Linked DNA regions of Homo sapiens. The protein of the gene in region 3 purifies or fractionates together with the protein of the main gene of each other region. This does not show direct contact. Each region holds a gene or a part of one and is shown on either strand. Other genes may lie near its edges.

Region 1 (4,142 bases), on a different chromosome or scaffold from region 3:
TCCCAGCTCTGCCCTTCAACTTACTAAGAAAATATGCTGAATGCCTTTCAGAGTGAGAGAGCATCAGACTGAGATTCTGATTTAAAAAACAAGCACAGATAAAGCACAAAGGAAATCTTCTCGAAACAAAGCCTATAATGGTAAATATGTTCAGAATAGCTTTTCTCCTGTAACATCGTGACCTGCATCTAAGCATCTAATAGCCTCCACCCATGCCCTTGCAGCAAGAATCAGAATATTTGTTCCTGTTTTAAAGGCACAAATGGTCCTAAGAGCAGATTTTCAAAAATGGGAGGAACAATAGCTCCAATGGACCAATTGCAGCATGCAGATATCTTGACCTTTGCAGGTGGTGTAGAATGATGTGGTGCCTACATATCTTTTGGCATCTACTCTTTCGAGATGCTACCTCCCCACTCCTCTTGCCTTATCAGTCTTCCATCACAAGCCAGACTAACTGAAATTCTCAACAATTTCCAACCTAGAGAGGGCGATAATCTGACGGCATGTACATTGGTTCCAGACAACTAGGGCAAGACACATTCCTCCCTGAAAGCACCCCCTTGGTCAGGCTCATCATTTATTCGTCACTAGATGTAGCTTTACTGCCAAAAGACCTACTCTTGTTTATTCCCCTCCCTCTCTACTATTTATAGTTGGTCTAACTTTTTACAAGCTTTGAATAAAACAGAGAATGTGACCTAAGATGTGTTATTAAATGTCCATACACATAAGATGGGGGAACAGAGAGTCACAGATGGTGACAACATGGGTAAAAATTCCTATCTACTTGGAATAAGGGCAGAATCAAATTTTACTCTAGTTTCATTGAGATGACACTGAAATGTCAGTAGCAACAGGCACATTCAAGTGTACCCTTCTTCCAAGCAGATCAGGCCAAGCAATTCTGGCCATTGGGACGTCCATTATACTGCTCACCTGGAAAAGGCAGCGCCCAGCACAAACGCAGCATACTCCTTCACGAGGGGCTCTGTGCTGTTCAGCCCATTGATCACCACTTGAAGACCACCAAAGGAAAGCAGGTCCTGCGCATTGTCCATCTGCAACAGAGCCACTGCTTAGTACAGCATAGCCATCAGGGACAGGAAAGCTGTTCTTAGAGCCTTTCTTTTGGTGACTACCCAAAAACAAATTAAAAAGCCATGGAAAAATCAATAATGGCCTTTTTGACTAAGAAAAGGTTTGTAAAAACCAATTTTTTAATACTCTTAAATTTGAGAACTCCTAATTCATCTAACACGATTGATGAGCACCTGCGTGGGAATCAGCAGAAATGACACCTAGCTATTGCTTATGCCAAACATGTCCTGGAAAATTCTAATATCATAATGAGTCACAAAGCTTGCTCCTAATGTACAAGCTGTTAACACAAAGAATCTGGCGTCATCAGCACCACTAAATGGTGCCATGCTTCCTGCTGATGTCCAATCCCAATGGGGACAGTGGAGGCAGATTTTTAAAGCTGATTTTAAATTAGAAGCTAGGGACTATAAAAGGAGCCCTGTTATTGGGAGGGGGGTTGCCGTAAGAGTGCTGGGGAGGGGGGAATAACAATAGTACCTTTCTCTTGCATCTCAGGTTGACTGCATCTGAAGACATTCATGATAAAATATGCAAGAAAATCGCTCTCCCAAAGGTTTCTGTCTAAGCCTGTGCTACTGGCTAGTGGCTATGTATCAGACAGTGCAGAACATTTCTATCATTACATAAAGTTCTATTCAACAGCATTGGTCTAGGCTATCATTTAAGCTCCAAATCCCCAAGTCCGGATTCTCTCTTTTACTCTATAGCGGATCTCATTACCCACAGTTTATTAGTACCCTGGAACAAGACAACTCGCTTTCCTCAGAAAGGTCACTGGATCCTGTTTTCTACATGTACCCGCTACAGTCTCCCTCGAATATATCTTTGTTGCCACAAAGGCTGCATCTTGCCCATATGCTAATCCCACGCTATCAATCATGAGGAAAACTCAGGAAGCTGAAGCCCAACAACTGTGGCTGCTACCCATCTTTCTCCTCCAGATTCCACAGGGCCCCTTCCCAACTGCATCCTTGCCTCTCTGAACTAGGAGAGGACTCTGACAGAGAAATCAAGTGTGAGGATTGGTATTTGACTGTGCTAGTGTTTTGTGGTGGCCTAGCCTGTTGTTGCCACTTGAAAAATCATATTCATACACATTTGGATGGAATCTCCATGACAGCAGGGGTTTTGTCTGTCTGTCCACGCTTGTAGCTCCAGGGACTAGGATGGTGCTGAGCATATGGTTAGGTGTTCAATGAATAACTGTTGCATTAATGAGTATGAATTTGATCAGAAAAGAATGTTCCTGAAATAAAGCTCCAGTGTGAATAAAAAGGCAATCTGGGGTATCTGTGCCAACAAAATGAATGGGCCTCTGGTACCGCAGACATGAAGTAATGGCTAAACCAGGTTGTGAAGTAAGCATGAAGTCTGCTCTGCCATGTGGCCCCAGGCCATGGACATTTTTCTGCCCCAAACTGTTCTTATGAAGAGGAATAACTGGTTGAGCCACAGCCCAGCTAACTAGGGAGACTCAGGGTTGGGTGCTTTGCTGACATAAGCACCTTCCTTCCTTCCCTACATGCTCTAATTTTACAATGTAAGAATTCACTACCTATTCTTTGGTTGTCCTTCCTCTGGGTTTTCTGGATACAAAACTATGGCTCAGAATCCTGTCATACCACGCCTGGAATGGCCACTTATAAAGCTGGTATGAGTTCCTAGCAGAGCAGCTGCCACTCGGTCAGCTCCAAAGCAACACAGCCCAGAATCATGGACCTTCTGTTCTAGAGTCAGTTTATCTACTATTACTACAATGATAATTCAGCATGATAGAAATGCAGACATTTATATAAGCACTTCAGCCTTTTTGGGATGTTTTCTCATGGTTTACTTCACTAACAGTGAGGAAGAAACGATTCATTCTGCCCAGTGCACATCAAAAGCTGGGCCCCCCCCTGGTGACATACAGGAGAAACCATGACCATAGCCCAGGTCCACAGCTCCCCATCTCGGTCTGGGGCCAAAACTGTTCTCAGGCTGCCTTCGGGGTGGGGTGGGACAGGCAGAGAGGAAGAGGAGGAGGGAGTGCAGGAGGGAACTATGCCAACACCCTGGAGGAAAGGAAAGAAGCAGGGCACTGATAAGACAATGAGAGAATGGGAAACAGCGAAGGGGAAAAATGGTGGCACACAGCTGAGGAGACACGTGGGAGAAGGCAAATGTACTGCCCGAGGTAGATGGGGCGGACGGAGGCCGCTCCTCATAAATAACTCACCATCTGTTTCCACACACAAGGTTTTGCTTTTCACATATCCTGTTTAATAATTCAAATATGGCTGTGAGGAAGCCTGGCAGACCTGGTTTGGGTCCTTGGAGCCTACAGCTCCTCAAACCACCATTCAGTGAGTCTGGAATGAGAAAGGACTGGGGAAGTTCCTGGCTAGGAAAGTGCCATCTTCCTTAAAACTAGTACTACATCACCCCAAGCCCCCATCACAACTGGGACTCGGGCCGAGTTGTGTCTTACTTAATCCCCCAGTGAAATCACAGCTTAACATTGCTGCATGGCAGCCTGATGCACCAGCCCTTCCAGTCAAAACACCAATGATCCAGAACATTTCTCTGCCAACAGACAAATTTGGCTTCTGCCAGGGACTGATTTTGGGATGACCTCAGGATGGGTCTGGTGAGGTGGCCTGTGAAAGCAGAATGGGGATGTCACCTTAGGGAAGACACTGCCAAGTGACAAAGAGCCTACAAGGGAAAACAAAGAACTTTGTTGGGGCAATGCTAGCCCAAGCCTCCTGTGGACTCACACCCTTCCAGGTATGATAAGCTCTCCAGTCATTTTGGTGTTTCATGTGCAAGAGCCCATGGTGACCTGATACCTAAAGATTCATCCAAATATGTTAAGATGAGAAAAAATAGAAGCTGTCAACATCAAAGGAGGACTGAGTTGGCAAATAACCCCTTATATCCTTAATCCTTTAAATATCTCTAATGGAAAAGCTGTTGGAGTTCTTGGTTTTTACCCTGGAGAGTAAGACTGGAAAGGGGAAAGAGAACCGAGGTTCATTTTTTTTCTCTAAGAGGAT
Region 2 (4,142 bases), on a different chromosome or scaffold from region 3:
CAGACTTGCATACTGGTGAAATGCTACAGAAATGGCAGAATAATATAAAAGGAATGTGTCAATATCTACATGCTAAATTTGTGAGGGAAAAAAGCTGATGAAGTTTTTCATCCAAAATGCCATCTCGATATTAAAGTTATCATTAAGATATTTAAGTTTTTTAAAGAGAACAATGAAGAGATAGAGAAAGTAAAATGACCTTAGACATATGTTAAAGTCTTACGAGGAAGCTGTGTAGTGAAAAAGAAATACTTGCATAGAAAACTGGGTACAAGGTGATAAAAGATGCTATATAAAAAAATTAAGGAATAAAAAGCAACACAGGCCAGGCACGGTGGCTCATGCCTGTAATCCTAGCACTTTGGGAGGCCAAGGCAGGAGGATCACTTAAGGTCAGGGGTTCAAAACCAGCCTGGCCAACATGGTGAAACCCCATCTCTACTAAAAATACAAAAGTTAGCCAGAAATTGCTTGAATCCAGGAGGCGAAGGTTGCAGCAAGCCAAGATTGTGCCACTGCACTCTAGCCTGGGCAACAGAGCAAGACTCCATCTCAAAAAAAAAAAAAAAGCAACACATACTACAAAAAACAAAGTTAATAAAACACTCCATAAAAATAATTGTTACTTGAATTTCATCTAAGAATGACTAATGAAAGTGTACAACAGCTTAATTAGGGTAAGAGAACTGACAGACCAGAAAAAAAATGTTTGTGATCTAAGCAGCACTATCTAATGGAAACAGTTTGGAATTAAAATTTACAAACACTGCAAATCAATTGAAGCAGTAACTTTGAATCTCTGTTCCCTTCTATCGAATGGCAATAACAATGCCCACTGTAATTACTTTAAAAAGAAACTTTCTGAAGGTGATAATAAATAAATGCAAACTTAGAAAATCTGAAACACCACGAAAATACAAGATGATGGGATTTAATTATCATCTTCGTCCTGAAAACAATTGATGCCATTAATAAGTTATTCCCTAGAAGAGTAGAAAATGTAAAACTTAAATTCTGTCTTTAAAAGGGCTTTTCTTTCCTCAGTGTTTTCAAAGGGCCATTAATGGTCAAGTGATTAACTCAAATGAAGAAGAAAAAGAGAAAGAAGGGTAGAAAAGCCAGCTTAAACATTTCTTATCAATGGTGGCGAGGTGGGGAGAATACACAGGGTGAGGTAAGGTTGACAAGAGTTTTCACTGATTAGCAGTGTAAATCTGAAGCTGAGTGACTTAATTTCCTATGCCCGCAACTCTCTCCTGATAGACTCCATTTCCCTCCAAAAAGTATGTCCAAGAACATCATCAGAATCCCCATCCTCAACATTTTTTTTTTTAATGACTGGAAACACTGCCATTAAATAACTCTCTGGGACTTCAAAATTAAGGTTTACATCCATGCCAAGAAGTGCTAAAATATAAAGGATTGAGTTTGGGAGAGAGGACAGAAAGATGGATGGAAAGGAAGAAAAGAGATAGAGGAAAGGAAAAAGAGAGGAAGGACAAGAGACAGAAAAAGAAAAAAGAGAGAGCGATACAGAGGGAGAGGTATCAGAGGAGGCAGTGAGAGGGAGACAGACAAGAGGCTCAGAGGAACCAATCAGGAGGATGGCCTTTGGATGCACTCCCTATCCAAACTGTACTTGAAGGGCAGTTGATTCACGGAATGTGACCTTGACAACCAAGGAGGGGCAACCTGCCAAACAATGACAAGTCCATTTTTCAAACCCTCCAAATAAACTAACTTGTTTGTCTGCTTTCAGCACTGACCTTTCTAAGATAAAGCATGTTTAATATATTTAGCTGACTCTGAGTTGACCAATGAGCCTTCACCAAAAGGAACTTCTGAAAAACTATCATACATGTATATAGAAATAAATGTGTATGAAATAGTACTGAATGTTATTTCAAAGCTACAATTCCAGTTTCAGATTTACTTTTCATTTTTTAAAAAATGCTTTTTTGAATCAAAAGAAAAACAAAAATGCCAGTCAACAACTACTGTAAAACAGAAGCAGTAACTACAATTTCCACATATTTTCCCTTGTCTTTCATAATGCTCTATGAAACATCATATGTCCTTAATCAGAAGTAATATAGGATTTGCTTTCTAAATAACAAAATTATAGCCTAGTTTTATGTCCCCTAATATACATGTATATTATTTATGATGAGAAAAATCAGCCAATATAATCAGAGCTACTCTGAAGTTTATAAAAAATGAGCTGGCATCATTTTGTAAAGTGTTGTGAAAAGGGTTAAAATGGTAAGAGTAGAAATGGTACATGAAGTTTTAAAAATACACACAGGTTGGGACAGATTGCAAGTGACCTTAATCCATGTTAAGCGGTTTGGACTTTCTTGCTGGCAATGGAAGCTTTATTATGAAAATTTTTGCAACAGAATACCAGGATGAAAAAGGATGTTACAGAAAGATAAAATGAATAGAAACAGACAAGATGTTCTGCACGTTTAAGAGCCAAATGATGGGCAGAGGGATGGGGGAGGACCTGAGTGCCACTGACTATGCTTGTCATAACTACACTGAAATAAGGAGTAGAAAGCAGAGATGGAATCAAGAAAACCTTAAAAAGGAAGAATTTCTAGGAGCTTCTGCCTGTTGACTAATCACTGACTGATATTAAGGTGGTGAAGTAGGAGAAACACAGAAAAATAGAACATGAGAGGGAGGAATATGAAAGTATTTCCAAGGTGACAGAGAAAATGATGCCAGCATTAATAGAAACAGAGGTGCAACTAACATCTCTTGGTGAAGACTTTTTAGTCAAATTGAGTTAAGACAGGCTAGTCAACGAGAAATGATTCACAGGCCAGGCCACTGGAATATCAAGTCAGAGATCTACTTTTAGATTTAAGATACAGCCAGGGCAAGAGTTTTATTTAAAAGGCTTTCCAGATATTGCAAACATGAAGTTAGGACTGAGAACCATTGAAGGACCTTCTGCTTCTAAGGCATACACATCTACACATTGCCAACTGTAAGATAAGGCTCCATTAGCGTTTAATGGGGGGAAAGGCAAGAATCCAGTGTCATTCATTATAGCATTATTTTAAAATAAAGAAATACATAAAATGAGAACTGTATAACATATATTTGAAGAATGAATTTTAAAATTGTTCAGTTATTTTCTTTAAAAATTCAATATTTGAATTAATAAAAGTGGGATTTGAATTTTACACCCTGTCTTCGGATCCTTCCCTTCCTTACCCTCTACTCACACCAACCTACTCAAATAACTAGACTGCAAACGGTTCTGCCTCCATTTCCTCCTCATCTGTAAGAATGAGTATATCTGCTTCCCCTTACTTCCCCCCGGTGGTGTGGGCTATAGAATGAAATGAGATATAAGTGCTTAGCAAATTATAAAATATGTTTACCAAAATAAGATGTCATCATTATAATTAAACCTAGGATGTAATTTTTAATTTTTCCAATTAGTCTCCACAAGAAAAGTATGACTCTAATTATTAGCCTGCATACAATCTTTAAATTTTATGTAAGTTTTACAACATAGCATAAATAAATGCTTATAGAAAAAAAAACAGAATGCGAATGTTTTTTCATAATTTTGAAAATCACTATATTTGTGAATTTTTACTTCGAACCTGACTCATTTCTGGAGTGATTTTTTGAGGGGCCGCCTTAACATTTTGCTTAGTACTTTGTCCTTCCCTTTAATAAATATTGATTCATTAATTTTCACAACAAAACTATGAACTATGCAGATAATTCAATAATAATTTTCTATAAAGAGAAAAATTAGGCATAAAATAATTCTACAGCTTCCCCAAGGTATGTGGACACCAAAACTGGAAAAAGCAACAGGAGTGGACGTCACAACCACTGCTCCTCACAAATCCTTCTCCCCTCAGAAGAAAGGCGCTCTTGAATTGACAAATACTTTTTCATTATGTGGCTTTTTTTCTTTTAAAAGTTTATGGTAATACCAAATAACAATAAATCCAACTGGTAATATTGGAAATGGCATCCCAAGTACCTTGGATTCCAATGCTTGTTAAATTTAAAGTGCCCTTCTAGAAAATTCAGCAAAATTTTACATAAATTTTTGTTAAATCTGAAAAGCTCAGTAAGTAAAAACCTGTGTTTATATACGTTTTGTTTAA
Region 3 (4,142 bases):
AGAACTGATCCCGGGAGTGTGGTCAAGGCCTAAAGGACGTGATGGCTATGGTGACCGTGAAGGCCCCACTGCTGTACAGCTAGCCCAAGACAAGCCACAGGGAAGGCACTCACTTGCCGGCCCCATCATAATCTCCACCAATCCCGATGAACTTGGATCCAATGACAGCCTTGATGTGGTCGAAGTGATCTGGGGAGGGGGAAGGTGGACAGTCAGCTGCGTAGGGCTTCCAGGGCAGGGGTGCCACTGGGGCTGGATGGCACTGAGTCTCCTTCTTGCAGCCTGTGGGCCAGGCAGGCTAATTCCTTTATGGCCTGCCACATAGCTTGGCAACCTGAGAACCCTGAGGTTTGACCTGAATGGATTCAGCTGGTTCTGGCCTGGATTTCAGGTTTGGAGTGGATCCACAGAGCCACTTGTCTGGGCCATTTCCCACCTAGGATTAAACCTGCCTCTAGTCTCTTTGAGAACCTGGTAGGAACTCTTTTCTATGGTTGTGGGAGATGACGGAGGGACAAAGAGTACAACTGACAAAGACCCCAGAGACCTAAGGGGCCTTCCCCTTCTAGTCTCTTGGCCAGAGGCCGAGGAAGGGTGCTTTGGGGATCCCCTGCAGAGGCGCAGATAGTTAGCACTCAGGTTCTATGTGTGGCTTCCTCCCTTATACCCATCAGGACCGCAGCACTGACTCTGTGGCTGCAGCTCCATGTGACCAATGTGCTGTGTACTGTCCATCACTGCATTTTTTTCAGTGAAACCACTGGGACAGTCCTGGGGCCCTCCCAAGTCTTCAGGTGCAAATCAGAACTGTTCAGAGAGCCCGGGAGAGGGAGTTACCTGCCACAGTGGACACATTGGCTGATGGGTTGCACTGTATTACTCCCATGGACAAAGACACCATCACGACGCCACCGTTCTTCTTCTGCAGGGGCGGGCAAGTGGACACTTAGCCTGGCCCCTCAGCAAACTGCATTCCTGCCCTGCCACCCTCTGGATCCCTGGAGAGGGTGTTCAGCTCTGACTTCAGGAGTCAGCAGAAACTTCACCTCTCTGGTTTTGTATGAAGGGAGGAGTCTAGGCCCTGGTCTGGCATAGGTGTCTTGGCACTTGCTTTGAGGAGTAGAGGAATATACATATTTACCATCTAGAACCCCCGACTCCTGGATGTGGACTGTGGGGTTGTGGGGCAAAAGATGTTCAGCCTGAAGTTGGAAGAAGTGGAGGGAGCAGGGCCTCAGGTTTGAGGGCTCCTGTTTTTTGTTTTTGTTTTCCATGGCAGGGTCCTACTCTGTCACCCAGGCTGGAGTGCTGTGGCGTGATCTTGGCTCACTGCAACCTCCGCCTCCCAGGTTCCAGAGATTCTCCTGCCTCAGCCTCCCAAGTAGCTGGGATTACAGGAATATGCCATCACACCCGGCTAATTTTTGTATTTTTAGTAGAGACGGGGTTTCCCCATGTTGGCCAGGCTGGTCTTGAACTCCTGACCTCAAGTGATCAGCCCACCTCAGCCTCCCAAAGTGCTGGGATTACAGGTGTGAGCCACCATGCCTGGCCGAAGGGCTCCTGGTTTGAACCTCTTGCTTTAGGTTCCTGGGCTGGGCAGTTTCTCACCAGAAGCTGCAGGATGTCATCAGGAACATTCCGAGCACTGTTGCACACACCCCGGGCAGCCGAGTGGGAGAAGATCACAGGTGCCTGTGACACTTCCAGGGCCCGCCGTGCCACAGCATCTGAGACATGGGATAAGTCTACCATCATGCCCAGGCGGTTCATTTCTGCCACCACCTTCTGCAGGGACATGTTGGGAGAAGGGTATCAGGGGTGCACATGTGTATACATTTATTTGTAAGAAACAGCTGGGGTGTGCACATTTGTTTGGGGTGGAGTGTGAACCAGGGTCCTCACCTCACCAAAGTCAGTCAGCCCGCTGATGTTGTTGTAGAAGGAGTGGACGCCCTTAGCGGAGCTCTCTGCCCTGCAGGGTGGCCAGGAAGCAGTCTGACTGGTAGCTGTTCCTCGGCCTCAAGAGTCTAGAGGCCCTACCCACCCTCCATCCCTGCACCCCCCTGAAACAAAAACAGGGATCCAAAATGGGCCCTGCAAATGGGCCATGCCTGGCAGCAGGAGGGCCCTGCTGGGTCCAGTCTTTTTTTTCCTTTTCTTTTTTTTTTTTTTTTGGCAATAGAGTCTCGCTCTGTCACCCAGGCAGGAGTGCAGTGGTGCTGTCGTGCCATCTCAGCTCACTGAAACCTGCACCTCCTGGGTTCAAGAGATTCTCATGCCTCAGCCTCCTGAGTATCTGGGATTATAGGCACGCACCACCACACCTGGCTAATTTTTGTGTTTTTCTTCAAGATAGGGTTTCACCATCTTGGCCAGGCTGGTCTCGAACTCCTGGCCTTAAGTTATCTGTCCGCCTCAGCCTCCCAAAGTTTTGGGATTACAGGCATGAGCCACCGCGTCTGGCCAGGGGTCAAGTCGTATTCTGAAAACCAGAATCCCAGCTCCCCTCCCCACTCCAGAGTCAGTGCCACATCCCATGGGTAAAGCTTGTTCTGGGCCCACAGTGACCTCAGGCAGATCTCTGCCCCTGCCTCAGCGGTCCCACACCATCTGCACTAGGCTCACCAGGGTGTGTTGCAGGTGTGGGTGAGCGTCAGGTAGCGCACTCCCAGCATGTAGAAGGTACGTAAGATGGAGAGGCTATTGTCCAGCGAGTGGCCACCCTCTACACCGATGAGGCAGGCCAATTTCTGAGTGTCGTTCAGAGCTGGGGGCAGGTAGGTCAGGTGATTACTTTCCAGGGCTGGAGTAGCTCAATCAAGTTCCTAACGCTTCCCATCAACTTGCCTACCTTTAGCCGAGGTCACAAGCTCCAGCTCAGAATAGGAGGCACACATGCGGCGTATGAGGTCAATCTGCTCCAGGGTGAGGCGCAGGGCATCCCGGTCCTGGGTCTGGCATGGCACATAGGCTGACCAGAACTGGGGGGAAGGCCAGGGTTTGGCTTGGATGGGGGCTGCTTTGGAGGACCCTGGACTGCTCACAGCCTCCACAGCTGACAGAGCACCCAGTGGGCCAGGAGGCCACATGTAATGTACTGCTTCTTCCACAGGGTCTTCCTGGCCACCAAGCTGGCTCACTGTAGCCTCTGCAGCCCCCAGCATCCATATCATGACACTTTTTGGGTCACTATGGTAACTGAGTTCTCATGTGACTAACTTGTGATCTCTGGGGTCCCCACTCTCCCCATCATCCCCCAGCAGCCATGCTGTGGCACCTCGTGTATCCCTGTGGTACCTGGGCGCCCACGAGGCCATCTCTAAGCCTGTCCAGGCTGGTCTGGCCGTAGCTGAAATTGCGCAGGTTAACATCCTGTAGCCCTTTCTGGTAAACCTGCCTTAGGACCAGGGGCAGGTCGTTGTGGCTGGAGGGATGTCAAGCCAGGGTCAGGTGAAGAACAGACAGATGGGCCTCTTAGCCCTCCAGTTCAGGAAGGACACATCTGGGGATCCCCATCCCTCATTGTCACATGACTATACTGAGATCCCCTGAGGCCCGGGCTAGGAGTGCCCACCCAAGAGGGGATGACAGAGGGGAAAGGGTACCCATGCATGACGGGAGAGAGGGCATCCAGGGGTGGTGTGAGGGAGCCTCCTCCACAGCCCTGCATACTCTGGGACCCTCCCTTGCCCAGGAGTGTGCTCAGCTCCCATCGCCCCCTTGCAGCAATTACGCACCCGTCCACGAGCGGGAAGTCCCGCATCAGGGCCCGTGCCTGCTCTTGCAGGCCCTGGGTGCTGGGACTACTGAGTGTGGTCGAGGGAGCGTAGGTGCCCGGCATGGTGTGGGCTCTGGGGGCGCCCAGCGTGGTGAGGGCTCTGGGGGGGCCTGGCGTGGTGTAGGCACAGGTTACAGGCTGGAGCAGCAGCAGCAGGAGCAGCAGACTCAGCAGAGGCCACCGACCAAACGTGCCGGGACCCTCGAGGCCGGAGGGCTGCATGTTGTGCAGGGCCGGGCAGGCAGGCAGGGGTGGCAGTCAGAGAGCCTGAGAGGGGCGGGCGAGGGGCAGAGCGCGACGATGGAGTCCCGACCCTCGATTCAGGCCACCTGGCGGCGTGGCCTCAAGAGGAGGGTAACGA
Region 4 (4,568 bases), on a different chromosome or scaffold from region 3:
TTTCTTATCCTGTGAGCCCGGGGGCAGCCTTCAGCAGAAAGGCCGTTCACCTCAGAGACCAGAGCAGAGGACTCTACCTGAGTCCTCTGCACTCAAAATTAGCAGAGCATGGTGGTGTGTGCCTGTAATTCCAGTCACTGGGAGGCTGAGGCAGAATTGCTTGAACCTGGGAGGCAGAAGTTGCAGTGAGCTGAGATCAGGCCACTGCACTCCAGCCTGGGCAACAGAGTGAGACTCTTGTCTCGAAACAAAACAAACAAAATCAGAGTCCTCTGCACTGGGAGGAGGCATGTGGGGGGACCCATGCCTGCACTTGGTAGTGAAGAAGAAAGGGAGACACCAGGCCCATGTACCCTTGGGCATACTAAGAAACTGGCATGTGTGGGCAGCAGCCCTCTCTCTGCGCATGCCCAAAGGTGGAGGTCTTTTTGGAAAATGTTGAAAGGACAGGTGGGTAGGGGTGTGGATGACAAATGGAATCTGGAGCATGATATGGGAGAGACCACAGCAGAAGGAAGATCCCCGCCGGGGGGAGCTCCATGGTGTGCATTTTGGCTTTCAGGGTATAAAGGGGGAAACAATAGGGAAAGACTTGGTGCAAAAGGGAAGGAACAGAAACAGACAGATGAGAAAAGGAAGATGACAGCATTGCAAGTGTTTCTTTCAATCCTTGCCAGGCCAGGCTTTGTTTAGCTACCCTGGTCTCTTCCTGCATACCCCAGCCCCCGTTTATAGTACCTGGGGAATGGGGAGCAAAGAACAGGATCAGAGCATGATCTGAAAAGAACACTGAGCCTTCTCCCTGCTGGAACCCCCACCCCACAAAAAAGGTTGATGGATTGATGGTCCAGTTGTTTATTTAGAAACCTGATTGTTCAAGAACATGGTGGGTGCTTCACACCTTTTTCACTGGGATTGTGCTGGAGGTGATAGGCAGCATTCTACCATTTCCTCAGCAACAGAGGTGAAGGCTCCTCAACTCAGAAGCACAAATTGTAGGGGACAGGGTGGGCAGGGAAAGGGAGAAGGAAATCCCAAGGCAATTCAATAGAAGAGGGTAAAACGACTCCAAACATCACTAAGGGCAGGTGGGGGCCTGCTTGCTCAGTGCCTGCTAAGTGTCCTGCCCTCCTTGCTCTCTCTACCCACCTCCACTCAAAAGATCCTACTGAATCTCCAGGTAGGCAGCAGGGAATATCCTATCATTAGGGGACAATAACAGGAAAAGCCACAGAGGAGAGGAAGAGGATTGAGTGAGAGTTCAGGAGAGCAAATATCACAGGCCCGGTGAGGTCTCAAGGTGGCTGCCAGCAGGGGCAGCAGCATTCACCCAGGGCCCCCACACCCACAGAGTTGCCCGAGAGGTCCACAGCTCAGCTCCACTCTGCTGTTTGGCCCTCAGGGGTTCCAGGGTGGGGAGGTGGGGAGGAGGCAAGCCAGTCCAGGAAGAGTCTGGATTCCGTGAAGGGTCAAGTGTAGTGTTGGTCTCAGAAGTCAAATTCGTCCAGGTCCCCTGTGCCCTCCCCACCTGGAGAGCCCCACACCCGGCGGTAATTGCTCTCCAGCTCTTTCTGCCGCTGGCGTTCCTTCTGGGCCTCTTCAGCTCCCGGCACCTGGTGGGAGAGGGTAGAGGTGGGCTGGAGCTACTGGCCGTTGAGCCCAGGGAAGTCCTGGGCCAGGCAGCTGGGGGAAGGCAGGGAATGAGGACACCCATGTCCTGAGGGGCTCTTCCTGCATGGCAGCACTCTGAGCCACTGGAACCCCAGCCTTGTCTTACAGATCAGGAAATGGAAGCTCAGCAATGGCGTGGCTGGGGCAAGCCCGCACCTCCACTCCAGGAGGGCTGGGGGCCAGGACTCGGGGGTAGAAGCCTCTTACCAAGATATTGAAGAAGATCTCCTTGAGGTTTCTCGTGTCCTCATCAGTCAGCCAACGTGCACCCTCTTCAGTCCCTTCAGCCCATGGGCGGACAATTTTGATCTCAATTTTCCCTGGAAAGGAGCAGTATGCAGTGAGAGGAGAGGATGGTTGGGAGCCTCAGGGCAGGCCCCCTGCCCCACTGGTCCCAGCCCCTCCACTTCCGGCAGCTTGCCCTTCCGACAGCACTGGGTCCAGCCGCCCTCCAGGGCCCACCTGCAGCTGTGAGTCCCTCCCTCTCCAGCAGCTCCTTCACCAGCCCCTCGATTTGTTTCAGCTGTGGGTTTTCCCGTTTCATCTCGAGGACAGTCAGATCCTGATTAGGGCCTCCGAGACGGAGCTTGGTGACCCGGACCCGGACTCTGTGCTCAGGATCCTCCTCTTAGAGGGGGAGACACACAGGGAAACACAAAGCAGAGGCGTGACTCCAGGGTTAGGGGTGTGGGGGTCATCTCCCCCTAAAACATCAGTTGGCTTTGGCAGCTCTTCCATCTCAACATGTATATGAGCCAGGGCTCAAAAAAATGTGTGCCCCGCCCCTCCCAGTTCAGCCTGTAGAGCTCCCTCCACCAATTGCAGCCTTCCATCTTCCCGCCCTACCCAATAATTCTGCCCGTCACCTATAGGAAAACAAATGTTTTCTAAAGCCAAAATCAGGCCACCTGCACCAACAAAGTTCTGTTTGAAGAAGCAGGTTGGAAAAGTGTGGTCTCCTCCTCCATATGTTGGGACTTTAAAGACATTTCAATGTTTATAGAGAGAGTGGGAATGGAAGGTTTGAAACTGGAACATTCCATTTAGAATATCTGATGTCCACACCCATAGGACACTATGAAATGGACACAAGGGGATACAAGAAGAAGAAATAATTTAAAGTCTATCCAAGCTATTGGCTCATGTGCAGCTGGGCTCTCCTATTCATGCCCTGACAGCTGGGGCCTCTCTTGGTGCAAAGTCCTAAAGTGGTTTTCAGCATATAGACTCACAAGCATTCAATTACTAGCTACTGATCATCCATTGTGTGCCAGGCAGAGTGCTAGGCACTGGGTGTACAGGAGCAAACCAGAAAACCAGCAGATATGCTCTAAAAGCTGCTTCCCAGAGGGATGAATAGGAGGTAAACACGCAAAGGGATGATGGTGTTGGGAAGCAGGCGCAAGTGAGGACAGTGTTCCAGAAAGTGGGGAGAGAATGAGCACCCTCAGAAGGGAAGGAACAGGGTCCCCTCTGGGAACAGAACCAGCTGAGGGATGAAAACAACAGACTGGGCTACTCTTTCTTGTCTGACTGCTCTCACCTGTAGGTTGGGGTGATGGGGGAGGCTTTTTGGGGACAACCCTCTTTTTCTTGTGCTTCTTCACCAGCTCTGGACTCTGTTTTTCCTCCAGTCTTTTGATGAGTTTGTTGAGAGTGGATGTGAGAGCCAGCATTGCCCGATCCCGCTCTGACTCCTTCTTCAGCCCATCTGGGTCCAGCTCTTTCTCTGTCTGGAATACCCAAGAGAAGAGAGTGAGTCAAGGGTCTGGGGTGTGGAGGCAGCCAGCGGGCTGGGCTCTGTAGGAGAGTCTGATATTTTGAAATGGAGTTTTGCTTATCACCCAGGCTGGAGTACAGTGGTGCCGTCTCGGCTCACTGCAACCTCCGCCTCCCGGGTTCGAGCGATTCTCTTGCCTCAGCCTTCCAAAGAGCTGGGATTACAGGTACCCACTGCCATGCCTGGCCAATTTGTTTGCATTTTTAGTAGAGAGGGTTTCGCCATGTTGGCCAGGCTGGTCTTGAACTCCTGACCTCAGGTGATCCGCTCACCTCGGCCTCCCAAAGTGCTGGGATTACAGGCGTGAGCCACCGCGCCTGGCCAGAGAGTCTGATATTTAAGTCTTGTCCCTCTCTCTGGTCCCCCTTCCCCAACAGCCCCGATTAATTAGGGAAACAGCTACCACTTCCAAGTGCCCCGTCCTTGCCCTGTGCTGTGCCCTCTGTTTCTTTTAGCCCGTCAGCCTGTCCTGCTCCACGGGACCAGGCGGCTGTGGAAGCAACAGGAGGAAGAGCTGGGCTTGCCTCCTGGATGATGTTTTCCAGTTCCCGCTCCATGCCAGCCTTCACCTCCGAACGGAGCCGGTCTCGGTCTGACGGAAGCAGGATCCCTTCCAGTTCCTTCTCAAATTCTCCCAGTAACTGCCGTTCATCCTCATCTTCATCCTCATCCTCATCCTCATCCTCCTCTTCTTCCATCTCTCTCTGCCGTTCTGGATCACCCCTTTCCTTCTCTGGTTCCCTCTGAGGGACTTCTGCAGCATCATCCACAGGCTGCTCTTGGCCTATATTTGGCTTCCCCTGGGTGGGTAGGGAGTGGGGAGAAAGACAGTTGGGGTTTCAACAGAGACACATGGTCGGGGGCAGACAAACAGTAGCAGGTGTGTGGTACTGGGGGACCCAGGAGTTGAGTCCCAGGTCAGGGTAGTTTTTCAAATGCTCGCAGTTGGGAGGTGGGTTCTACCCATTCCCTAAGCACGGCCTATACCTTTTTTGTTCCACCTTTCAGCTCCTCTATGAATCGAATCAAATCCGCAGGGCTTCGAATGACTTTGACCTGCACGTTGTTCTGAAAATCTGAGATGAAAGAATAATAATCATGAACCTGTTCTGTTGTG
Region 5 (4,142 bases), on a different chromosome or scaffold from region 3:
GGGTGGTGGGGAAGGAGCGAGCAGACACTGACAGTCCTGGTCCCCTGACACCAGCTCCCCACACGGCTCAGCATGGTTGTGGCCCCACCTTACAGGAGGGAGGCTGGGACAGACTCTGGCTGCTCCAGCTCAGCCCTGTCACCTGCTTCTAGCATCCCCCAGAGTCTCTCCCTTGGCAACTTGTGCTCTTAATCCACTGCCTCTGAGGCTGCTACTGGACGTGGGGACACATGTCCCCCCTTCCCCAGCCGTGAGCTACAGGGGCACAGATGGGCCAGGGTCAGCATCACCCTCAGGCCAAGCCCAGGGCTTGGCCCCAGCTGCCCTGATAGGACTCATCATGTGAATGAAGGAAGAAATGGGATTGAGAACAATTAGGGCAATGCCACTGGCCAAGGAGGTGCTGGCTTTGGAGGGCCACAGCCTGTGTGGGGAGGAGAGCTCAGGACTCCAGCCAGACTAAGGGCTGTGAATGCCAGGCCAGGGCCAGCCTCATCTCTGAGCGGTCAAAGTAACCTGTGCCGCAGCAGCACAGCCGGGTGATCAGGAACACGTGGAGACCCCAGTGCCCACCTGTCCACCCCCGCAGTTTGAGCCATCAGGGCCTCCACTCCTGGCCTGCCGCACTTACCTATGTGCAGGCCCTTGGCATGCTTCCTGACAGCTCGCATCCACCCTGTGGGACATGGAGGGGACAGTCAACACAGGCACGTGCGCCCAACTGGAAGACCCAGCCTACCTGAGGAGGAAAACGTGGCAGCCGCACAATACGCAATGGGAAGGGCAGGGGCGGGCAGGCAGGTGTGAGAACCCACCCCTCCCTGGCCCAGGGCTGGCTCTCCACACCCTCTTCCTGACCCCAACTCTCCACCCTTCTGGCCAAGGCCCCCTTCCTGACCCTGCAGAGCAGCTCTGAGCTTACCCTCCCTGAGCTGGGACAGCTCAGAGCCTGTGGCCGGCCAGGGGAACAGGCAGCTGCATCCTAGGGCCTGGGGACGGTCAGGGTTTCTCCGAGCTGAGGGATGGCCAGACCCGCCAGGCCCTGACACTGGCTGACATTCCATCACCTCCCCACGGTTCTCTCAGTGTCAGGGAAAACCACTCCTGCTCTCTGAACTCCAAAACTGCCTAACACTTCCCCTGCCATTTCTCTCTGTCCGAGCCCAAACGCAAGGCGCAGCCACGTAAACTCGGGCAGACGTCATCAGGTCAGGATGTGCCATCAGGAGGCAGCCTCCGCCTGAACCCCACCTTCCTCCCTGGCATTGAATGAAAATCGCTGAGAGAGGGACAGAGGAGGAGAAGCCAATGGCCCGTGCCGTTTGCTGCCCAGAGGCTGCCTGAGTCATTGTAGAGCCTGTCCTGCACACGCCTGTGTGCAGCCCGGAAGTGCAAGGGAAGGCCACCCTCACAGCCACCTGGACCACACGCAGACCTGGGCGGAACACTCTGAGGCACCAACTTGGCCTTGCAGAGGGTCCCACCGTGGCGACCACCTCAGAAACCCCCTCTACCAGGCCTGCCCTGCTCCACACTCACCTTCCCACTTAGCACACCAGCCCACACCATGGGCCTGCTCTGCCGGCTGGGCCCCAAGGGGTGAGGGCGTGGTTCTCACAGTCACCACACTCAACACTCACACCCACTGTCTCACACTTAGACATGTCCACACCGACAGTCACATTCAACACACTCACAATCTCTTCTCTCCCACATCATCAGTCTCACACTTACACACTCACATTCACACTTAAATCACGCAGAGACACACACACACTCCCATACAGAGACACCCACAGAGACATACCTACTCACACACACACACCCCTGCTCTCGCACTCACACTCTTTTCAGCCTGTGGGGCAAGCACAGTCAAGCAGGAAGGATGAGAACCTTGGTCCACGTCGTGGAGGCCCGTGACCTCAAACATCTCACGGCCACGTCTCTTCAGCTGCAGCCAGACGGGTGAGATCTGTGTGAACTTGCTCCCAAAGACCTTGGTGACATCGTAGCCATGGCTGTTCCACTGGCAAAAGATGGAGACATCAGACGGAGGACAGGTGAGTGAGCACCTGTCTCACCATGGTGCTGTCATTCTGGCGCCTCTGGACGTGCCCAGGGCTGGCCAGCGTAGACAGATACCAGCCCGGACTGACATCAGCTCCTGGCCTGGGGTATCCTTCTCCTACTCTGGACTGCCACTCACAGCCTGGGACCCAGGCCACGACATCCCTTTCACCAAAAGTGACTGGTGCTTGTCTTAAGCCCCACCTGGAGCTAGTGCACACCACTGCTGCAGGCTGGCAGCTGGGAACAGCAAGAGAAGAGGAGGCTGGGTGTGAGAACCCACCCCTCCCTGGCCCAGGGTTGGCTCTGCACATCCACTTCCTGACCCCAGACGACCTGCGAGCCCACCTCTGGATTCAGGGGGAACCCACAGAGATCAGCACAGCAAGCCCCTGGAGAGACCCCCAGGGTCTTACACTCTGACATCTCCAGAATGGCATCTCTCCCACCGTAGCCTCACAGCAGCAGCAGCTCCGGGAGATCAGAACATAGACCCCCATCACTGACTGGCCAGAAGAGGCCATCACGGGGCCAGGGCAGCCCACCTGAGCCTCAGGACCTCCCTCTGCACTGTGAGGGCCCCAACTTACTGGAGTGACATAGCCCAGTACATCCCCAGCAAAGTGTCTGTCCCGGGCCTTTGCCGAGCAGTAGCTGCGATGCTCAAGAACCACACTCTCAGCTTTGAGGTCCGTCACCACCAAACCCCGGTCTTGCACCGGCTTATCTGAAAACTGACTCTGAAATAAAAGGAGTGAGAGAAAAGCCTCAGTCATCTGTCCACAGTGTAGAGCACAGAGCCCCACCCAGCAAGTCCCTTCCATTCAGCCAGCAGCCGAGTCTCTGGATCCACACAGTGCTGCTGACCCGGAGACCCTGTATGTTGAGGATCGAGGCCACAGCAGGCAATTCAATTCAGAAGCACTCTGGCCGTCAACAGACACTGGCCGACGGTACAGGGCCTTTCCCACCCTTGCTCCGGGCTGGAAGGCAGGCAGGCAGACAGACAGTTATGGTGGCTCCCTCCTTGCATGTGAGGGTGGACGGTCTGCACCAGCTCTGGCCACTCGATACCCATCCGGGCACTCCAGGGCCATACGCTTTGCTGGACAAGAACATGCCAGGTGCGCTGGGTGCATTGGCTCACGCCTGTAATCCCAGAACTTTGGGAGGCCGAGGCAGGTGGATCACCTGAGATCAGGAGTTGGAGACCAGCCTGGTCAACATGGTGAAACCCCATCTCTACTAAATATGCAAAAATTAGCCAGGCATGGTGGCGGGCACCTGTAGTCCCAGCTACTCGGGAGGCTGAAGCAGGAGAATCGCTTGAACCTGGGTGGCAGAGGTTGCGGTGAGCCAAGATCGCGCCATTGCGCTCCAGCCTGGGCAACAAGAGCAAAACTTCACCTCAAAAAAAAAAAGAAAAGAACATGCCAGGCACACGCCACCATGCTGGCCAACCACTGCCTGCCACCGCCCCCGCCAACGTGACCCTGCTGGCCAACCACTGCCTGCCACCGCCCCCGCCAATACGACCCTACTGGCCAACCACTGCCTGCCACCACCCCCACCAATGCAACCCTGCTGGTCAACCACTGCCTGCCACCCCCCTGGCCAATGCGAGTCTTTTCCTGCCATGTCACACCTGCCCCTACTCCACCTCTGCTCCTGGAAACCTTCCATCCAGTTATCAACTTGTCTCTTCTGTCCACACTCTGTGGCCCGGCTCAGCCTCCCCTTGACCTCGCCCCAAGCGGCCCCGTGAGAGAGAGATGTCCACTGCATGGTTTATTTGCCCCCATACAGCACAGAGAAAGCATCTGCCAGTCCAGGACTAGGTCACAGTTACAGTCCTGTGGCAGGGTCTGGCCAGCGGCATGGGGACTGCTGGGGCTGAGAGGTGGTTCTATGAGTTTACACCCTTGAAGGTGCAATCCCCAGGGCCATCCCAGGGGAACGTCCCAAAAAGCATGAGGCAAACACAGCTCAAGGCCATGATAAAGACAGCAAGATGAAGATGCAGGTGATATAAACGAGAGGTAGAGCATGGAAACTGGCAACTGGCACATAAAACA
Region 6 (4,142 bases), on a different chromosome or scaffold from region 3:
TGCCCCATGAGACCCCACCAACTTCACCTACGACACACAATCCTGCCAGCAGCCAACACATGCCCAGCAAAGTGCCTGACCCTGGCCAGGTCTTCCAGTGGAGGTGGTGTCTGAACCGAGTCCCCAAGAGGAGGAAGGACACAGGGCCAGAGGCATGCTTGCTGTATTGGGAAAGGCAAGGCGAGGGCCCAGCAAGAGGCAGCAAAGCCCTGGCTCTGATGGGAAACAGGACACTGGCTGATGCAGCCGGAAGTGGGGATGTGGTGGCAGGTGATGCTAAGTTAGTTCAGGCCAACACACTCTGGGGGTTCAAAGGCAGACTAAGAAGTTTTGGACTTGATCCATTCATTCAAGTCTGCTCCAGCTATCCTACCCGCAGGGTATCTCCGCTGTACCTGGGCTCCCTTCTGGGTGTGGGGAGACAGGGAGCTCACAGTCACTGCACTCGTGGGCCAGATGGTGCAGGAGCAAGGGATGCGATCATGGGGAAGAAAGTTCCCGGGTGAGGAGTGGGAGGGCGACTGAGGAGGGGGCCTCCAGAAAGCTGTCTGGAGAGGCCTCTTGAAGTAACACTGGTGCTTCGAGCCCCAAGATGAAAGTCCCTGAGGTGGGAAGGAGTTGGGAGGCTAGGAGGAGCCCGGCCTCCTAGGACCTGGGGAGGAGGTGAAGGTCTGGGCAGGGAGTGGCCTGGAAAGGTTTTTTTTTGTTGTTGTTGTTTGTTTTTTTGAGACGGAGTCTCGCTCTGTTGCCCAGGCTGGAGTGCAGTGGCGCTATCTCTGCTCACTGCAAGCTCCGCCTCCCGGGTTCACGCCATTCTCCTGCCTCAGCCTCCCAAGTAGCTGGGATTACAGGCACCCACCACGCCCGGGTAATTTTTTGTATTTTTAGTAGAGACGGGGTTTCACCATGTTAGCCAGGATGGTCTCGATCTCCTGACCTCGTGATCCGCCCGCCTCGGCCTCCCAAAGTGCTGCGATTACAGGCGTGAGCCACCGCGCCCAGCTGGAAAGGTCATTTTTAACAGCTCCCAGTTGCTGTGAAGGGAAGGCCTGATAGGGGCAGAAGTAGACCGGGAGACCTGGAAGAAGGTGTGGGGTCACCTAGGCCACGGTGGGGTGTGAACGGGCGGAAGCCCCGTCCAGTGCCTGTTTAACCACCTCCAGCTTGTGGAGGCCGAGCGAATGCGGGTGTGGGGTCCGGGCCGGGGTACACTCACGCGTTGCGCTGGCACCGGGACTGGATGCAGATGAGCAGGCGCAGGTGGTCCCGGGGGCGCGGCGGCCCCCTCCTCGGCGGCTCCCCGAGCGCTGCGGGGGAGGGTGGGACGTGGTCAAGCGGGCGGGCGGCGGGGTGGGCGACAGAGCGGGCGATCCTCCCACGCCCCGGGCCTCACCCACGTGCAGCGTGGCGGCGAGAGCGTAGAAGCCAGCCACGGGCGCCCTGTACTGGCCGCTGGTCAAGTTCAGGCCCGGGCCGCGGCGGAAGGCACCCTCGGCGTCGGGCTGCGAGGGGCACGGATGGTCACCCCGGCTCCCGCCCGGCCGGACTCACCCGCCCTCCCGCGCGCCGGCACTCACCAGGTAGTAGACGCCAAGCTCGTGCAGCGCGCGCCGCTCCACCAACGCGTCCCGGCGCAGGCGGCAGAGGAAAGCGGCCTCCACGCGCGGCGCCCGCGGCCCCGGGGCCAGGGGCGCGGCCAGCAGTGCCAGCACGTCCCCCACCACGTCGTCGTCGTCCTCCCCGGCGGTGGCCGAGACCGGGGCGAGGCTCGCAGCGACCGGCCCGGCGGGGCCACACGTACAGGGTTCGGGCTCCGCGCGCTCCCGCTGCCGCACCGCACCTGGCACAGAGCGAGCGGTGGCCGCGCGCCAGGGACCCCTCACCCGCCCGCCGCGTGGGTCCAGCCCTGAACGACAGGTGCTAGCGAGACCAGGGGCCTGCCGGGCGCAGGGGTGGGGCGAGGGCGACGTCCCCTCGGCCTGAAGGGCCTCGGAGTCTTTGCGTCCTGACCCTGCAGCGGCTCCCGTTTCCCTCAAGATTTGGGAAGCTCGGGCAGAAGTGCCCCAGCGCCCTTGGCCTCCAGCCTCACCTCTACCCCACCCACATTTTCCAAAGACGCTGGGGGTAAAATAAGCGATTGCAGCTTTACTGGAAGTACAAGGAGGTTCTTCAGCGCAGAAGGTGCTATATTTAAACGAACAGGACATTGAACTAAAAGGAAAAAACGGCTCAATTCTAATGACTAATGTGAGCCGCCGCTCTGCAGGAGGCCTCAGTGTGGACTCCGCGGCTCCACTCAGCCCTGCCTCCTCCAGGGCAGGCTGCCCCAGCCCTGGCCAGTGGTGACTGTGGGTGCCAGGCTGAGCTCCACCTGGTGCTGCCCCATACACTAGCCTCTGCCTTTCGCTGGGCTCTCCTGACTTCCAGGCAGGGCATAGGCGCTGGTCCCTGAGCACCCGCCATACTGAGTGGCCAGGTCCACCTTCCTCTGTGAAGCCTTCTCCTGGCCATGGTTCCCAACCCCCAGCCATCCCCAGCCCTGACCCTTGGCAGACATGGGCCAAGATGGGGCAGAGACTGGACCTGGCCAGCTCTACTGTCCTTGAGTCCAGCCCAGAGCAGGTGCCTCCTTGGGTGCCCGCCGAAGTGTTGAGGTTGGCCCTGTCAGCTCCTCGGGACACCCTCCCAGGCCCTGCTCACAGCGGGGTGTGTGTGTCCCAGCCGGTGCACACCCCTACCTTTCAGCAGCAGCTGGAACTCCTTCAGCAGCGCCTCGGGTGGGATGATGGGGCCTGGGGGGCCCTGGGGACCGGGAGGCCCAGGGGGCCCTGGCAAGCCGAACTGAAAGGGAACCTTGGCAGTGAGGACATGTGAGGAGCAGGCTGGGAGCCACAGCATCCCCTGTGCAAGCTCTTGCCACTAAGAGGCAGGCAACAGAGCTCCCCAGTGGGCTCCAACCTCCAGCCAAGGATCTACCTCAGTGAAAGCTTCTCCTGGAGTGAGTACAAGGACTGTGCTGGAGGTGGGGGCCCTCGGGGCGGGGCTTTGGCAGGGAAGGACTCTGCTCTGAGTGGGGAGGCAGAGGGCTGAAGCCCGCTCCTGCGGCCAGGCCTCGTGGAGGGAAGAAGACTCTAGGCTGCTTTTGGGGACTTGCATCTCAGGGTCTGCACTGGGCCCGAGTCCACCATCAGCAGGTCCCCACTAGGCTGGGTTGGGACCCGAACCAGAAGCCAGTGAGCCCCCTGTGGGGAGAAGCTTAGGGCAGGGCCAGGAGGCTGGGCAGAGGTAGAAGGCCAGGCCACGAGGACAGCGCGGCCTGTGCACCTGCCTCATGCACTCCGAGCTGGCCTTCCATCGTGTGTTCAGATCCCAGGCAGGTGATACTGGCCCCCAGGGGACAGAGAAGCCCACACCCCGTATTTTCCATTTTGGGGGCTCCAAGCAGGAGGCAGCACCAGGACCAAGCACCAAGTTTCTGCCCAGGCCAAGACCTAAGGCTGAGTGAGGGTGAGAGGGACCCTGTGCCCCTAGTCCCTGGGAGCCAGGCACTCCTGCAGGCCCCTCCAGTGTGGACAAGGTTCTCACCACAGCCTGGGCTAGCCCAGCCTCCCTGGCCTGGATGCAGAGGGAGGAGAAAAGAGGGAGAGCCTGGCATTTTAGGGGTGTGGGGAAATGGTTGGGACCAGGCCCCTAACTCGGGGCTCCCCCTGGGGCTGCCTGGGTTCTCTCTGTTCTCTGTCCCCAGGCCGAGGCGTGAGGGGTGTGCTATTGGAAATGTTCAGGATGTAGGAGTGGGAGTGGATGAGGAGCGAGGAGGCGGAACCCCCCACGGCCTGGCACTGACGGGATGCCGGCCTCACCTTCAGCTTCTTGGCCTTGCCCCTGCTCCTCTTCTTGCCATTGACACCCTTGTCACTCTGCCTGACGAAGAGCATCCAGGCGTCCCGGGGGTCGACGCTGTGTGCACGCTCAGCGGTGGGCTCCTGGAACACAGCCAGCCCAGCAGGGCGGTTGGCCTCACTGGGCTCCTACCAAGCAGGTGGGACACTTTGCAGGAGGTGACTGTGTGGCCTTCTGTACTCTGGGACCCTGGTCCTTGTCACCTGTGGTGCCCTCAAAGGCAGCTCCCAAAGGGGCCCCAA
Region 7 (4,142 bases), on a different chromosome or scaffold from region 3:
TTTCCTGAAAACTGTACAGCTCTCCAACCTGCCATAAACGGACAGCCCGGGGCATGCAGCCCTGACCCTGCGGAGCACCTGTGCCAAGTGTGTGAGAAAAAGCTTTGGTTGCAATATAACAAATGCTGTCTACATCACAGGTGTGGCGATCGATGGGAATAATCACGAAGTCAAAGAAAGACACATTCAGCTGGTCAAGAAAAGGGGGAAAGTCAAGGCTCTCGATGAAGAACTTTACAGTAAGTGGAGGACCTCTGAGTGGGAGGAGCCGCTGCAGCGCCGGCCGCTTTCTAGGACCGTATTCCAACAGCGCCGGAGAATGGAGATTCTCCTTTGTCCCAGCTCAGATAAACAGAGGGAGGGCTAAGCCCGTGCTGTAAAACCGGGCTTCGCAGGGTATGGGATGGTTTATTTTAGGTGGTGGCGGCGCATGGATAATTTTTTTAAGTGTGAAGGGTTACATACAGTAGTTATTTTAATTATTCCAGCAAATGATACTGCTTCTCTGTTTATGGTAGGGATATATCATTTTCTTTTTAAAGCAAGTTTATTTCTGTGAAGAAGTGAGCTAAGCTACAGACAAGTAGTAAATAACCTTCAGCACGGGTGGTTTGTGGGCCTGCGCGGACTCCCAGGGTGGGAGCTGGTGGGGAGGTGCCATCGGTGTGGGTGACGTGACTTGGGTAACGACACCAGGTTGCACTCACAGTCCTGGGTCGAGGCTTGTTGTTCAAGTGCGGCAAACTGATTTTCCTTTCATTTAGAACAAGACAGCATGGACTTAAAAGTGGAGTTTGAGACACACTTCGGCATTGCCCACACGCGCTGGGCCACCCACGGGGTCCCCAGTGCTGTCAACAGCCACCCTCAGCGCTCAGACAAAGGCAACGGTATGTGGCATGCTTCCCCGTCCCCATGGTTCCACCTCACCCTGAGCTGTGTCAGGGCCAGTGCCCGCCAAAGCAGGTTCCGCGCCCACCTCTAACTGACTTCTCAGCCTACTTCATCTTCCCAAGAGAATGCGGATGTCCCCTCTCCCAGAGCTCTGCCAGTGGCCTGGGCCTCAGTCAGGAGGCAGGCAGCCTGGTCCTAGGGTGGTGCTGGCCTCCCAGGAGTGCACAGGAAAACGATGGCACTTAACCAGGAGAGCTGCTGGCTCCTTGGAACCCAGCCCATGAGTGGGATGAGGCCGCGTGAGGGACTGAGGGGCCTGGGCACTGTTCCTCCCCAAGTGACGGAAATGCTGCAGAAGGGTGTACCCTTCAGGCAAGGATGGGTTCTGTCCTTATGCAGCTAAACCTGTCTTTTCCCCACAGAGTGGTCCAGGTGAGGGCAGGGGCTGTACTGGTCTTGATTGGTGCCACCAGACACACCGTGGGCCCCAGCGGGAGACCTCAGCAGCCAGGGGCTTAGGGTTTGGAGAAGTAGGGGCCGCAGCCCGAAGCCCAGGGGCTCTTCCCAGGTGGAGAGCCCTCAACTCAGCTTGCTTCATGTTCTTAAAAGTTGAGAACCACTGTGCATAAAAGTCCAGACTTCTGGCATCACTTGAAAAACTGGAGGATCTGGAAACACTGAGCTGACAGCACGTTGGAGCACCACAGATTGGCAGAGGGCCAAGGTTGCTGCACCTGCTGTCCTTGGTGGGTTTCAGGCTCTCCTGTTCGCCCAGTCACCCCCTCAGGCCAGCTCACAGGTCTGTGTCACTTGCATGGGTCGCCAGGACAGTTCTCCACGCGTGATTCTCTTAAATGACACCCTTGCCCCCTCTCATGGGGGAAAGACTGGTAGGTCTGCAGCTCCTGGTGGCAGTTCTCAGGGGTCTGTGGTCAGCCCCAGGGCGCCGGGTCCCCTGCAGTGGGATGCAGTAGGCATGGAGCAGAAGAGAGGATCTAATCCCTGTCTCCTCCCAGGCCTCCAAGGGCAGGCAGGAGTCTAAGACATAAGCTGGGCCTTCCAGGGGGTCCCCCACTCTAGGTGAGGCCTGGTCCAGTCACGAGCCCCTGAAGCCCCCAACCTGGACATGCCAGGGGAGGGTGTACAGCAAAGACAGTGATTTCTGAAGTCAACTGGACCCCCCAACCCAAGACATCCTCTGGCATAGTGTAAGTTCGTGCCAAGCCTAATGTTAGATAGGACCAAATACATCAGAGCAGTTACTGGGAGCTTATTAGCAGGCACTAAGCCTTGACACTTGACAAGTCCCACTGCGGTTAATCCTTGTGGAAGTCAGGCCACAGGAGAGCAGCACCAGCCTGCTTGGTGTCCCCCACCCACTGCTGATCAGTGGTTCTCCGAGGCAGTGTAACTGGGCGGGATGGGCAGGCACCCCCACCACCCACAGAAAGTGCAGTGGTGCTGCTTCTCCCCAGAGCACTCTGCAGGGCCTCACCAGCTCACCCCGCCCAATTTGGAAGGGAAGGCGTCCCCCAGAAAACGGAAGGAGAGCCCCATCCACCCTGCTCAGCAGAGCAGCTTGGTGGTAGCACAGGAGCCAGGGCTACTCATGCATCCTAGTGATCAGGGTCTTGAGGGAGTGAGGTTTTTGCGAGGGCCTCTTCCTTGGGTCTGGCTCATGCCCTGAACCATAGGGCATTTCGTGACTGAGGCACACACCCTATGTCCAGGAGGAGGACAGCAGACCCCATGGTGCTGAGGACCTAGAATGTACATCTGGCCAGAGCCCAGGTCAAGTGCAGAAGCTGGTCCCTGGGGCAGTCGTGCTGGCCGAGAAAACACTGCGCCCAGACCATGTGCCCTGAGATGTTGCCACTTTAGCCACAGCCTCCTGCCCTTCCCAGTGATAAAATGAACCTCATTGGAAAATCCCCCACTTCAGTGTAGATGATGATTCTCATTGTGTCCCCAAAGCAGGGAGGCTCCCAGGAGGCCCACCCACACCCAAACTTGGACACTCCAGCCCTGACTCAGGATGAGTAATTGAAAAGAAAACAACAGGACAATAAGCAAAGATTTATAAAATTTCTTTGACACTCAGCAGTGATAGCTGAAGAGCATGCTTTTAAGGAAGTCTGAACGCCCAGCAACTATACCACACAAGGAAATTACACAAAGATTCTGCAGAGACAACATGGATTCCAGAAAACAAATTAATGATAGGATCATAGACTGAGATGAAAGAAAGTGTAGCAGAATTAAGAGAATAATGTAAAGAAACAATATCACCGGCCAGGCATGGTGGCTCACGCCTGTAATCCCAGCACTTTGGGAGGCCGAGGCGGGCGGACCATGAGGTCGGGAGATCGAGACCATCCTGGCTAACACGGTGAAACCCCATCTCTACTAAAAATACAAAAAATTAGCCAGGCATGGTGGCGGGTGCCTGTGGTCCCAGCTACTCGGGAGGCGGAGGCAGGAGAATGGCGTGAACCTGGGAGGCGGAGCTTGCAGTGAGCCGAGCTCGCGCCACTGCACTCCAGCCTGGGCGACAGAGTGAGACTCCATCTCAGAAAAAAAAAAAGAAAGAAAAAGAAACAATATCACCATAGATATAAAAAAATGGAGAAGGGGATGGACGTGGAGCCAGTTAATATGGATCCAACATATGGGTAACTGGTGTGCACAAGAAGCGATCAGAGCACAGAGCAGTAAAAAATAAATAAATAAATACATAAAAAATAAAGCTGAGCTGTGGTCAGCACATCTGTTGAAACTGGGCTTTTCTTATTTAAGCCCTCCCATTTTTGGGTGTGACCTCACAAAAACAAACACTACAATTTTTTTAAATAGAGGAAATCATGGTGAGAATAAAGAAAAAGAATAATGGAAAAGATTTCAAAAGATGCTGTGGGAGAAATCTTTCCCGAACTGAAGGAAAACTTGAGTTGGATATCCAAAGAAGGGATCAAAAATAGTCAATAGACCAGGCACAGTGGCTCAAGCCTATAATCCCAGCACTTTGGGAGGCCAAGGTGGGTGGATCGCCTGAGGTCAGGAGTTCGAGACCAGCCTGGCTAACATGGTGAAACCCTGTCTCTACTAAAAAAATACAAAAATTAGCCGGGTGTGGTGGCGAGCACCTGCAATTCCAGCTACTTGGGAGGCTGAGGCAGGAGAATCGCTTGAACCCGGGAGGCAGCAGTCGTGGTGAGCCAAGGTCACGCCACTGCACTCCAGCCTGGGCA

Evidence for each region.
Region 1: the proteins of DPEP2 (region 3) and SIL1 purify together in Homo sapiens (affinity purification with mass spectrometry; one large-scale study listed by BioGRID and IntAct). This does not show direct contact.
Region 2: the proteins of DPEP2 (region 3) and ITGAV purify together in Homo sapiens (affinity purification with mass spectrometry; 3 studies listed by BioGRID and IntAct, with this or other methods). This does not show direct contact.
Region 4: the proteins of DPEP2 (region 3) and OS9 purify together in Homo sapiens (affinity purification with mass spectrometry; 3 studies listed by BioGRID and IntAct, with this or other methods). This does not show direct contact.
Region 5: the proteins of DPEP2 (region 3) and CHID1 purify together in Homo sapiens (affinity purification with mass spectrometry; one large-scale study listed by BioGRID and IntAct). This does not show direct contact.
Region 6: the proteins of DPEP2 (region 3) and ERFE purify together in Homo sapiens (affinity purification with mass spectrometry; one large-scale study listed by BioGRID and IntAct). This does not show direct contact.
Region 7: the proteins of DPEP2 (region 3) and GFPT2 purify together in Homo sapiens (affinity purification with mass spectrometry, with the first as the bait; one large-scale study listed by BioGRID). This does not show direct contact.

The regions. Positions count from the first base shown.
Region 1 is NC_000005.10:139,020,232-139,024,373, forward strand, and holds part of SIL1 (nucleotide exchange factor SIL1 precursor), read right to left. Parts: intron 1,062-4,142; coding exon 940-1,061; intron 1-939.
Region 2 is NC_000002.12:186,592,880-186,597,021, reverse strand, and holds part of ITGAV (integrin alpha-V isoform 1 preproprotein), read right to left. Parts: intron 1-4,142.
Region 3 is NC_000016.10:67,989,210-67,993,351, forward strand, and holds part of DPEP2 (dipeptidase 2 isoform 1 precursor), read right to left. Parts: exon of another isoform or gene 4,049-4,142; 5' UTR 4,004-4,048; coding exon 3,741-4,003; intron 3,428-3,740; coding exon 3,301-3,427; intron 2,985-3,300; coding exon 2,855-2,984; intron 2,771-2,854; coding exon 2,629-2,770; intron 1,976-2,628; coding exon 1,906-1,975; intron 1,789-1,905; coding exon 1,612-1,788; intron 923-1,611; coding exon 838-922; intron 190-837; coding exon 114-189; intron 1-113.
Region 4 is NC_000012.12:57,717,829-57,722,396, reverse strand, and holds the end of OS9 (protein OS-9 isoform 1 precursor), read right to left. Parts: intron 4,528-4,568; coding exon 4,439-4,527; intron 4,252-4,438; coding exon 3,976-4,251; intron 3,405-3,975; coding exon 3,215-3,404; intron 2,299-3,214; coding exon 2,134-2,298; intron 1,992-2,133; coding exon 1,879-1,991; intron 1,614-1,878; coding exon 1,488-1,613; 3' UTR 840-1,487; downstream 1-839. UniProt on the Homo sapiens protein: Lectin component of the HRD1 complex, which functions in endoplasmic reticulum (ER) quality control and ER-associated degradation (ERAD).
Region 5 is NC_000011.10:900,305-904,446, forward strand, and holds part of CHID1 (chitinase domain-containing protein 1 isoform a precursor), read right to left. Parts: intron 3,475-4,142; coding exon of another isoform or gene 3,400-3,474; intron 2,808-3,399; coding exon 2,658-2,807; intron 2,027-2,657; coding exon 1,894-2,026; intron 677-1,893; coding exon 632-676; intron 1-631.
Region 6 is NC_000002.12:238,161,435-238,165,576, reverse strand, and holds part of ERFE (erythroferrone precursor), read right to left. Parts: intron 3,984-4,142; coding exon 3,861-3,983; intron 2,842-3,860; coding exon 2,739-2,841; intron 1,841-2,738; coding exon 1,578-1,840; intron 1,503-1,577; coding exon 1,394-1,502; intron 1,308-1,393; coding exon 1,217-1,307; intron 1-1,216. UniProt on the Homo sapiens protein: Iron-regulatory hormone that acts as an erythroid regulator after hemorrhage: produced by erythroblasts following blood loss and mediates suppression of hepcidin (HAMP) expression in the liver, thereby promoting increased iron absorption and mobilization from stores.
Region 7 is NC_000005.10:180,332,576-180,336,717, reverse strand, and holds part of GFPT2 (glutamine--fructose-6-phosphate aminotransferase [isomerizing] 2), read left to right. Parts: intron 1-140; coding exon 141-239; intron 240-764; coding exon 765-890; intron 891-4,142. UniProt on the Homo sapiens protein: Controls the flux of glucose into the hexosamine pathway. Most likely involved in regulating the availability of precursors for N- and O-linked glycosylation of proteins.